2 separate regions of the Homo sapiens genome follow, and region 2 is linked to region 1. Evidence: fine-mapped expression QTL. A gene starts in region 1. The other region holds a variant in brackets. All regions are shown on one strand. Distances are between the middles of the regions.

Region 1 (5,379 bases):
TGGATGTTTGCCCCCTCCAAATTTCGTGTTGAAAAGTGATTTGCAATGCTGGAGGTGAGGCCTGGTAAGGTGATTAAATCATGGGGGCAGATCCCTCATGAACGGCTTAGCATGGTAATCCGTGGTGGTGAGTGAGTTCTCTCAAGATTTGTTTAAAAGAGCATGGCACCTCCCTCTACAACTTGCTCCCACTCCCAAATGAAATGCCTGCTCCCCCTTTGTCTTCTGCCATGATTGGAAGTTTCCTGAGGCTTTCACCAGAAGCAAATACTGGCGCCATGCTTCTTGTACTGTCTGCAGAACCACGAATCAATAAAACCTATTTTCTTTATAAACTACCCTGCCTCAAGTGTTTCTTTATAGTAACGCAAAAAAAAAAAAAAGCCTAATACAGAAAGTATTTCACTGTCTGGCTTCCATGATGCCTCAGTTCTAAAGTTAAATATTCAGGGTTAAGTAAAATAAAAACTTTCACAATTCTACTTGTCCCACAAACACCTCAAATTAGTAAAAAGAATAATAAATCACAGCTACAATAAAACTATTAGGGGATAAAATTTCTACAACATCATGTTTTTAAAAATAATTTGTCTAGAACAAAACATGGGATTCTTTCAACTACCAACTCTTCCCCAAGCATTACTGTGTTGGCCACTTACAGTATATTTACATGACTTCTCTAATTTTTTCCTGACATGAAGAAAATTCACCATTTCTTTGGCATCTCAACCCTGCCCCCACCAGAAGACCAAAATACAAACAAAAAATTGGAGAAAAAGTGCAGAGCCTCTTTGGCTAGCAGCGAGATAGTGCAGCCAATTTTGTTGTTGTATTAAAAATAATTTTAAAATAACATGTTGTTAAGCAATAGTTTATGTGAAAACTTATATTTAAAAAGCCATGCTTTACTTAAATATGCCCTTCTTAGGGCACATACCACTTTAAACAAACAAAAGGCACACCTTGTAATCTTAACCCAGATTGTGACCACAGGCTGGTTGAGGCTTAAAAAAAATCCGGGTTTAGGAAGAGCGCTTCAACCTCTTCCCAAGTGTGGCTGAGTCGTAAACATATACGAAATAACCGCAGACTAAGCTAATATCAAAGAATGCTAAGAGATGCGACTCGGATTTTTAAATGTTTGGAAACATGTCAAGAAGCGGGTACACCTGAAACAGACACTGCATGCATCCTGGATAAACTGCCGCAGCACACTCCTCTATTCAGTCAAGTTTCCGTTTCACACCTCCAGTCAAATCAGGGCTCATATCGCCCTCCCTTAAAACAGACACAGGTTCGAAACCGAGACAGTGCTGGGCTCACATTTAACTTTCTTTCAGAGTTCACTTTCTTCATTTTTAACTACTTTCTCAAGTAGCAACAGCTTTCACCGCTGTTTGCCAGGGAGGGAAACTTTTTGGTAAATGTAAAAATATTCGAAAGTATTCAAATACTTCCGGGTCTAGCCTTATAACTTCAGTCTTAACGGGCTGCACCAAGACCTTACAATAACTTCAAAAGGCAAAAGATGTGTAATGAAAAGGACAAAATTAGAACATCCACTTAGCAACTTCAAAGGTGCACACACACAGGTAAAAAAAAAAATCAAATCCAAGACCTACAAACTTCCCGTCAAATGATGAAATGTTAACGAACGTTTAGAGCGGACGAGAAGTCGGCTGCACTCCAATACATCTCTACCACGCTAACAAATACTTTAAAAACCGGAATACACAAAGTCAATTCTACGCCATCGCTCAAAACAAAAGCAGATAAATTGTGCACACATTCTCGCTGAAAATCACTCCGACTTCACGCCTCTAAACACCAAAAGAGCAAGAAAACTGTTTCCTGGGTGAAAAATACAAAAAAACTTCGGTCTGAAAAATTCATCAGTTGGGATGCGACTCCCCCCACCTTTTTCCTCCTCCTCCTCCTCCTCGTCGTCCTCGTCCTCTTCCTCCTCGCTCTCCTCTCTGGGACCGGGCATTTCGGGTTCTTTCTCGGACGCGGGCTGGGTGGGGGTTCCCTCCCCCTCCGCAGCAGGGGCCGAGGCGGACATGCTGTGAACCTGCATGCGGGAAGAAAGCCGGACGTCTCGGTCCTCCTACTCCCGCAGGCAGGACCGGGCGGCCACCCTGAATGATGCTACCCTTCCCGCGGGACACCTGCCCTGAAAGTTGCCTCCTCCCATAGCCGGGACCGCAGCGCTCAGTCCCCAGGGGCGGCTTCCCTCCCGCTCCGCCGCCGCCGTCCAGGGATTCCCGAGGCGGGAAACCGCGCCCGCTGCCCCGCGTGCGCGCGCGCCCGCCCGGCCTGCGCTGTTCCCGGCCCGGCCCGAGCTGCCGGCCCTCCACGTCCCCTCCCCCGCCCCAGGCCGCCGTCCAAATGGCCGCGTCCCTCCCCCGTCGGCCGCGGCAGGGGCGACCGGGCCTCCGGCGTCCCGAAGCAGCCCTTACCGCGGATTTCGGCCGCCGCGGGCCTGGCACGCGAGGGCACGAGGAGGTTCTGGGAGGCGGCGGCGGCCGACGCCGAGGAGAAGGCGCGCGGGCCGCTGTCTGGCGTGACGCTCGCGCCGCGCGCTCGGCTCCCCAGAATCAACAAGATTTTCAAAATGGCGGTTCGGGAAGGAGAGCGGGAATGCGGCGACCAATCAGGGCCGCGAGCTGGGAGTTGGCGGGCGCGGGGCGGGGGAGGCGGGGCGGCCGGGTGCCTCCGCGGGAAGCTCGGGCGGGCGGGACCGCGAGGGGTCGCCTCGGCCGCGGGCGGAGGGATGCGCGCGCGGGGCTCTCCCCGGCTGCGCCTGGAGTGTGGTCGGCGCTCGGGCCCCGGAGTGCGGGCGGGCTGTGTCCCGCGGGGCGGGCGGGAGCGGGAGGCGAGGCGGCCTGGCAGCGCGGAACGGAAGGACGCTAGGGGGCCTGCGTGTTTATTGTTTCCACGGTCGCTTCCTGGAAAAGATGATGAGCAGTCCCGGGCCGCGGAGGGGCGCGGCGGGCGCGGTAAAGAAGTTTAGAGATCTCCGAAGTCGCTATCGACAGTGTTACTCTGAGGCGGAGGAGAATTAATCAGCGGTCTCATCAATGCTCCAGAAATCATGCTGGGTGATAGATAACTCCCAAATCTGTATTTCTGAGGACCGCATCGCTTGTAAGGTGCACCGAAAGGAAAAAGATCCTACCTGCCACGTTAAAGGTTCACATAGCCAGCCACATAGATTTACACCCCTGTAAATATAAGGGGAGAGGCTCCCTCCCACCCCATTCCTTCTCCTCTCCTCTCTCACACACACTCTCTGTTTTATAATAGAGGAAATATGTTATTTGGCCGGGTCCAGACCCTTCTCCCAGAGTTCTAGGTCATCTATGCAGATGCTTTTTACACATTCAACACTGCAGACACTCAAAGCAGTATCTTCCCTGCTCAATGCTGCCTTCTTTTGTATGTGATTTCCTTTATTTTCTCCCAACTCTTCAACCACTAGCTCACCTGAAGGATCCTTGTACTCAGTGGACTTAATAGAAATGTGATCAGTGAAATTTGCCTGGACTCTGGGTTGCAGGACAAAAATTAGACATTTCCTTTGAATCTTCCCTTTTCCTTTTGTTCCCCTTCCAAAACATACGCGAATAGTGTCATTTCTACCCTCAAACGGTATGCCATTTTCCACACTATTTATCCCACTCAAATCCTATCCACACTCCACAGCTCATCTCTCCTTCTTGCTGCCTGCAACGTGGTTGGGAGTGGGGGGTTGTGTTTCACCCCTATTTGTGTTACAGCTCTTTCAATCCTACCATTTGGCAGGTCCTGAGTTCTGGTCCTGTGTCCAGGAAGAGTGAGGCACGCAAACAACTGGAGGGTGAGCAAGGTGGACAGGAGCTTCACTGAGGGACAGAACAGCTCTCCTGAGACCTGAAGTGGGTTGCTCCTTTCTGCAGGGGGGTTGTCCCGACTAGCGTCCTGCCCTCAGTGGAGAGGAGACCCATAGTGGGCAGCTCCTTTCTGCAGGCAGGTGGTCCTGACGAGTTGAGGAGACCAAAGTGGGTAGCTCCTTCCTGCAGCTGGTAGGCCTGAGCGCTGGCTGAGTCTGGGGTTTTTATGGGCTCAGAAGGGAGGAAGTGTGTGCTGATTGGCCCATGGGTGGGCCCAGAAAAAGCACCACTAGTTTTCACTCTGGGCTGCAGACTCTACCTGGAACTGGCCACCAGGCCCCCCAGGCTTCAGGCCATCCCTGGCTTGAAGGTGGGCAGGGACCTACCCCTTTCCCCCCAGGAACGTGTCTGCCTCCCACCATCAACATGTCATCCATGGCGCCCAGGCTGTTTGTGCTGAGGGGTGCCTGCAGGCCCACGCGGAGCCACCCTCAGCCCCACCAGCCTCTTTCTCGCACTTGTTGGTGCCCAAAGTCCAGAGAGGGCCAAGGCGGCAGGTGGCTGGTGTGTCAGTGCTGCCCTGAACACGTGCACACCCAGCTGGGTTGCAGCAGCGCCCGTGCCTGGCCACAACTTTGCTCCGCCTTGGAGTGGGCCCTGGGAGTGGGTAGAGAGAGGGTAGAGGCCTGGGAACAGGCACATTCTTTTTTTTTTTTTTTTTTTTTTTGAGACAGGGTCTCACTCTGTCACCCAAGCTGGAGTGCAGTGGCGTGCTCTTGGCTCACTGCAACCTCAGGAGCAGGCACTTTCAGCCTGCAGGGGCAGGGGGTTTCCTGGGCCCCCAAGAGTGCAGGGATGGCTGGGTGCAGAGCTGCGGCTGGACGGCTGCAGCTGTGCCCAGGAACATGGGTCTCCCGCCTCGCTGACGTGGTAGGGGACGGGGCTCTTGCATGTTCCTGGCGCCCGCTGTCTCTGAGGAGTGGGCAGCTCTGGCCACGCCTTCCATACTGCAGCTGGCATCCCCTCAGCAGCTGCTCCAGACAGGCTGTCACTGCCATCAAGACAACGAGCAGGTGAATATATATTCTATGACAATTAGTGATAGCAGTAAAGCAAGTTAAAGAAGATAGGAAGTACCAGTAGGGTGGATGGGATTTTGTTTTATATATTCAACAATGAAGCAATGACTTATTAATAAGATGACATTTGAAGAGATCCTAAGAAAATGGGAGATCTGAAGACCCACTAGGTTATTCCAAAGAATGCTCTAAAGTTTTGGATGTGGGGCACGAGAGTCAGGTAGAAATCAGTGATGACCTTGGGGTTTTTGGTTCAACAACTGTGAGAACAGGAGTAGCTATTCGTTGAGATGAGAAAGACTTCGGGGGTGGGGGTGGGCAGGATGGTTTTAGAGGGGAAAGTGCAGGAGGTGGGAATGAGTTGTTTTGTTTTAGACATGTTAGTTTTGACAATTCAAAATGGAGATTCAGGAGTGGCAGTTGGATTT
Region 2 (5,379 bases), 20 kb after region 1:
GTGAGCCACTGTGTCCAGCCTCAAAATCTTATTAATTAAAGCTTCTCCTGGCAGTAGTAGTACTAGTTTTTTGTTGTTGTTCTTCTTCTTCTTTTCTTCTTCTTTCTCCTTCTTCTTCGTTCTTCTTCTTCCTACTTTTCTTCATCTTCCTTGTCTTCGTCCTCTCCCTCCTCTTCCTCCTCCTCTTCCTCTTCTTCCTCTTCCTCCTTCCTCCTTTCTTCTTCTTCTTTCTTCTTCTTTTTATTTAAGAGACAGTGTCTTGCTCTGTTACCCAGACTGGAGTGCAGTGGCACAATCATAGTTCACTGCAGCCTCGAACTCCTGGGCTCAGGCATTCCTCCGGCCTTGGCCTCCTGAAGTGCTGGGATTACAGGCACAACCCACCACACCTGGCCTGGAAGTCCTACTTCTTGATGCTTTTGTCTTTCAAGATCATCTGTCTTGAAGATCTACTCTCACTAGTTGTAAAATAATTTGTCCTCATATATAGGCACTGAAAGGATTGAATTCAATCTTGAGAGAACATTTAGAGAGATATTCTTGCTAGTACCACAATTTACTACCATTTATTGAGGTACTTTACCTACATTAAGAAAATATCTTTACGGACCTAAGAAGTAGCCATTATTATTCCCTTTATACAGATCTGTGATTCAGAGAAGGGAGCATCTTGATCAAGGTTGCATACCCTTCTAACATTCCACATTGCTTCCCTAATAGATACAAGCTGTGGAGTGAGTCTATAGATGATTATATACTCATTTTAAGATATCTGGCCAGGCGTGGTGGCTCACGCCTATAATCCCAGCACTTTGGGAGGTCAAGGTGGGTGGATCACGAGATCTCCTGATCATCCTGGCTAACATGGTGAAACCCAGTCTCTACTAAAAATACAAAAATTAGTCGGGTGTGGTGGCACGTGCCTGTAGTCCCCGCTACTCAGGAGGCTGAGGCAGGAGAATCGCTTGAACCTGGGAGGCTGAGGTTGCCGCGAGCCAAGATCGTACCACTGCACTCCAGCCTGGGCAACAAAGCAAGACTCCTTCTAAAAAAAAAAAAAAAAAAAAAAGATATCTGAGCTATTTCCTAATTCTGAAAAGACTTTGCAACTAGGGCAGAGATCTTGGTCTGTTATGTTTGGTGATATATCCCAAATGCCTAGAAAAGCACTTGACACATTTAGGAAATACTTGTGGAATAGAAATGTTTAGTTTGGTGTGATCCTTCCAGATGTTTTACTATGAATTTACATGCATATACACAAGCCTAGAAAATAATAGCAAAAAGGTGTGTTTTTATATCTCATACATGAACTTCAAGATAATTCAGGTGTTACCTCAAAATTTCCCTCAATCACAGCACTTAGTGCACTGTATTGTCATTGTCTAATTATTTGTCAGTCTCCCTCATTAGACTGTGAGCTCCTTGAGAGTAGGAAGCATGGTTTTTTTTTTTTTTCATCTCTGTATCCCCAGGGATAGCACATAGTAGGACATAATAAATGTTGAATGGTTAAAAAATAAAAAATGTGTTCCAAAGCAGAATGAATCCTTAATAATCAAGATGTCTTTAAACATACATTTAAAAAAATAATTTCATAAACTTTTGGTGATTTACAAGACATCTATAATATGATAAATTTGCACACTCTCCATTGCATTTTTTTTTTTTTTTTTTAAACAGAGTCTTGCTCTGTCACCCAGCTGTAGTGCAGTGGTGTGATCTCAGCTCACAGCAACCTCTACCTCCCAGGTTCAAGCCATTCTCCTGCCTCAGCCTCTGGAGTAGTTGGGACTACAGGCTCATACCACCACACCCGGCTAATTTTTGTATTTTTAGTAGAGATGGGGTTTTGCCATATTGGCCAGGGTGGTCTCAAACTCCTGACCTCAAGTGATCCGCCCACCTTGGCCTCCCAAAGTGCTGGAATTATAGACATGAGCCACTGCACTTTGCAGGTGATTCTTTACTGCACGATAACTTTTTATTCGAGGCTTTTTAGGAGTTCTGTCTTTTAGTGTCATCATCCTGCCAGAGCAGTTATAAATTAAAATGTGTACTACTTTATTAGAATTTACTTTATGTAAATTAAAATGTATACTACTTTATTAGAATTTACTTTATGTCTCCTTTATGTTATAATCAGGAGGTTGAATTGTTTTGTTTTTAAAGTATGTATGTATTTGGCTATATTTTCTATTTCACTTCAAGATATAAAAGGGGTAGCTCACAAAATATTTGTTTTAAAAATGAACATTAGTCTGGTAGGGTTCAAGAGTCATTGTTCTATACAAAATATTTATTAATCTGAGACAAATCTAACAATTTAGCAGTAGTACAAATTTTACCTTCAGTTCCATGAATTTTTATATATATATATATATATATATATATATATATATTTTTTTTTTTTTTTTTTTTTTTTTTTTTTTAGATGGAGTTTCATTCTTATTGCCCAGGCTGGAGTGCAATGGTACAGTCTCGGCTCACTGCAACCTCTGCCTCCCAGGTTCAAGCGATTCTCCTGCCTCAGACTCCCAAGTAGCCAGGATTACAGGTGCCATGCCTGGCTAATTTTTTTGTGTTTTTAGTAGAGTCAGGGTTTTACCATGTTGTCCAGGCTGGTCTTGAACTCCTGACCTCAGGTGATCAGCCCGCCTTGGCCTCCCAGAGTGCTGGGATTACAGGCTTGGCCAGAATTTATACATTTTAATCTGCTTCTTTTGGCCTTTGTTATTTATTATGCTTTGTTATTTATTATGGCCTATGTTATTTCTTACATGAAGAGGTGAACAATTGCCTCATTACAATGGAATCTTAACACTTCTACCCTAGGAGAAAGCCTTGCATCTGGAGAGGGCTCTCTTTCTCTTTCACTACCATTCTTCCAATGCATTTGTTTCCATATCCCGAAAGGCAAAGGCTATTCTCTGAATTAGGAGGTTCATAGAAAACCTTTGTAAACACTTTGAAAGGCTCTACTTTGGGCCTAGTACAGAAAGCAACTGGCCCTCAGCCATTCTCTTGGCAGGGGTCAGCTTCCTGGTCTGCAGCTTGGGAACGTTGACAGAATGTGTGCCCCTTCCCACCTTTGTCCCCTTTTTTGGAGAGTGCGTAATTAATGCCTCATGAAATCTTGCTTTAAATTTTCAAGCTAGCCAGGTATGGTGGCTCACACCTGTAATCCCGCCACTTAGGGAGGCAGAGGCGGGAGGATCGCTTGAGGCATGGAGTTTGAGACCAGCCTGGGCAACATAGCAAGACCTTGCTTTTCACACACACACACACACACACATACACACACACACACACACACACACGGAAAAAAAGTCAAGCAACTGCTTTTAACAATACTTTCCCCCATAATATTTAATTAGTCATGATTT[G/T]TTTTCTTCTAAAGTCATACTCTCAGCCAGGCATAGTGGCTCATACCTGTAATCCCAGCACTTTGGGAGGCCAAGGTGGGTGGATCATGAGGTCAGGAGTTCAAGACCAGGCTGGCCAACATAGTGAAACCCTCCTCTATTAAAAATACAAAAATTAGCCAGGCATGGTGGCACACACCTGTAATCTCAGCTACTCGGGAGGCTGAGGCAGGAGAATCACTTCAACCTGGGAGGTGGAGGTTGCAGTGAGCTGAGATCGTGCCACTGCCCTCCAGCCTGGGCGACAGTGTAAGACTCTGTCTCAGGAAAAAAAAAAAAAAGTCATATTCTCCATTAGCATACTTTATCATCATTTAAATATTTTCTGGGAAACCATGTGAGCAGAAAGAGGTAAGAGTATTTGGAGAGTATTACATTTAAAATTGTTTTTATATCAATTTAAATTTATAAATAGGCTTATGGGCCAGGCACAGTGTCTCACAGCTGTAATCTCAGTATTATGGGAGGCCGAGGTGGGAGGAGGATCCCTTGAGCTCAGGAGTTCGAGACTGGCTTGGGCAACATAGTGAGACCTTGTATCTACAAAATTTTTAAAAAATTGATGAGCGGGTGTGGTGACTTATGCCTGTAATTCCAGCACTTTGGGAGGCAGAGGTGGGCAGATCACTTGAGGCCAGGAGTTTGAGAACAGCCTGGCCAATAGAGTGAGACTCTATCTCTACTAAAAATACAAAAAAAAAAAAAAAAAAAATAAGCTGGGTGTGATGGCGCATGCCTGTACTCCCAGCTACTCAGGAGTCTGAGGCACGAGAATCACTTGAACCTGGGAGGCAGAAGTTGCAGTGAGCTGAGATCGCGCCACTGCACTCCACCTTGGGCAACAGACTCACTTGGGCAACATGTCTCAAAAATAAATAAATAAATAATAAGTAAATAAATAATTAGGTGTGGTGGTGCACGCCTGTAGTCCCAGCTACTCGGGAGGCTGAGGCAGGAAGATTGCTTGAGCCAGGGAAGTTGAGGCTGCAGTGAGCTATGGTCATGCCACTACACTCCAACCTGGGCGATAGAGGAAGATCCTGTCCCTAATAAATAAATAGGCTTATGAAAAAGGTTAAGGAGCATTTCAGGCAATTGCCTTATTTTACATTTTTGGTTGGGAAAATACAGAGGACTTTAAAGATGAATATCAAAACTACCTCCAAATCTACCATCCAGAGATAACCACATTTAACAATTTGGTATGACTTTCATAGTTATTTACTACAATAATGTGTGTGAGTATATATGTGTACTAATTTTGTTGTTACAGAATTGACACTTTTTTCTATGCATTTTGCTTTTTGACCTACTTTAAAAGAATTTAACAATATATCATAAGAATTGCCCATGCTATTGAGAGTGTTTCTTTTGTTATCTGGATAATACTATTATGTTTGCTCACTTTCCCTGTGATAGTTTGGAAGGTAGTTCTCATATTTTAAATATCCACTACTGCTGCCTTTCGGGTTTTTGTTTGTGTGTATGTATATATGTATATGCTAATGTTTTTGTTTGTGTGCGTGTGTATATATATATATATATATATATATATATATGCACATGTATATGCATGTTTTCCCTAATCAATGCCAGGAGAAAACGGTATTTATTAACTTTATTTCTGCAAGATGGGAAAGTTGGCACATTTACTACCTCTCTCTCCAACTCCCACGTTTCCTAGTTTTTTGTTGATACAATCTAGGATTATTTAAATCAATTATTATCATTATTAATAAATGCTGAAGTCATATATTTTCTTTTTGTATTAGGTTATTTCTTGCTTCTGGCTTTATTATTTAAAAACTGTAAAATCGACAAATAATTGTACATATTCATGCAGTACATAGTGACGTTGTGATACATATAATGTATAGTGATCAGATCACAGTAATTAGCATATCCATCATCTCAAACATTTATCATTTCTTCATGTCGGGAACATTCAGTATCT

The links. PIP is the estimated chance that this variant, and not a neighbour inherited with it, causes the effect.
Region 2: its variant is the best candidate, but not a certain one, in a credible set for the expression of DEK in whole blood (INTERVAL, PIP 0.60).

The regions. Positions count from the first base shown.
Region 1 is chr6:18,261,926-18,267,304 of GRCh38, forward strand. It overlaps DEK (DEK proto-oncogene), which reads right to left and starts at 2,605. Exons shown (of 11, transcript NM_003472.4): 1 at 2,460-2,605; 2 at 1,918-2,071. The coding sequence starts at 2,062. It overlaps LOC124901270 (a long non-coding RNA gene), which reads left to right and starts at 2,607. Exons shown (of 2, transcript XR_007059486.1): 1 at 2,607-3,152; 2 at 3,805-5,379. RefSeq lists an enhancer at 1,729-2,280 and silencers at 2,166-2,225, 2,286-2,645, 2,686-2,965.
Region 2 is chr6:18,281,598-18,286,976 of GRCh38, forward strand. No RefSeq gene overlaps it. Among named protein-coding and RNA genes, the nearest start is that of DEK, 20 kb to the left of the region's middle. The variant G/T (reference allele first, on the strand shown) is at 3,387.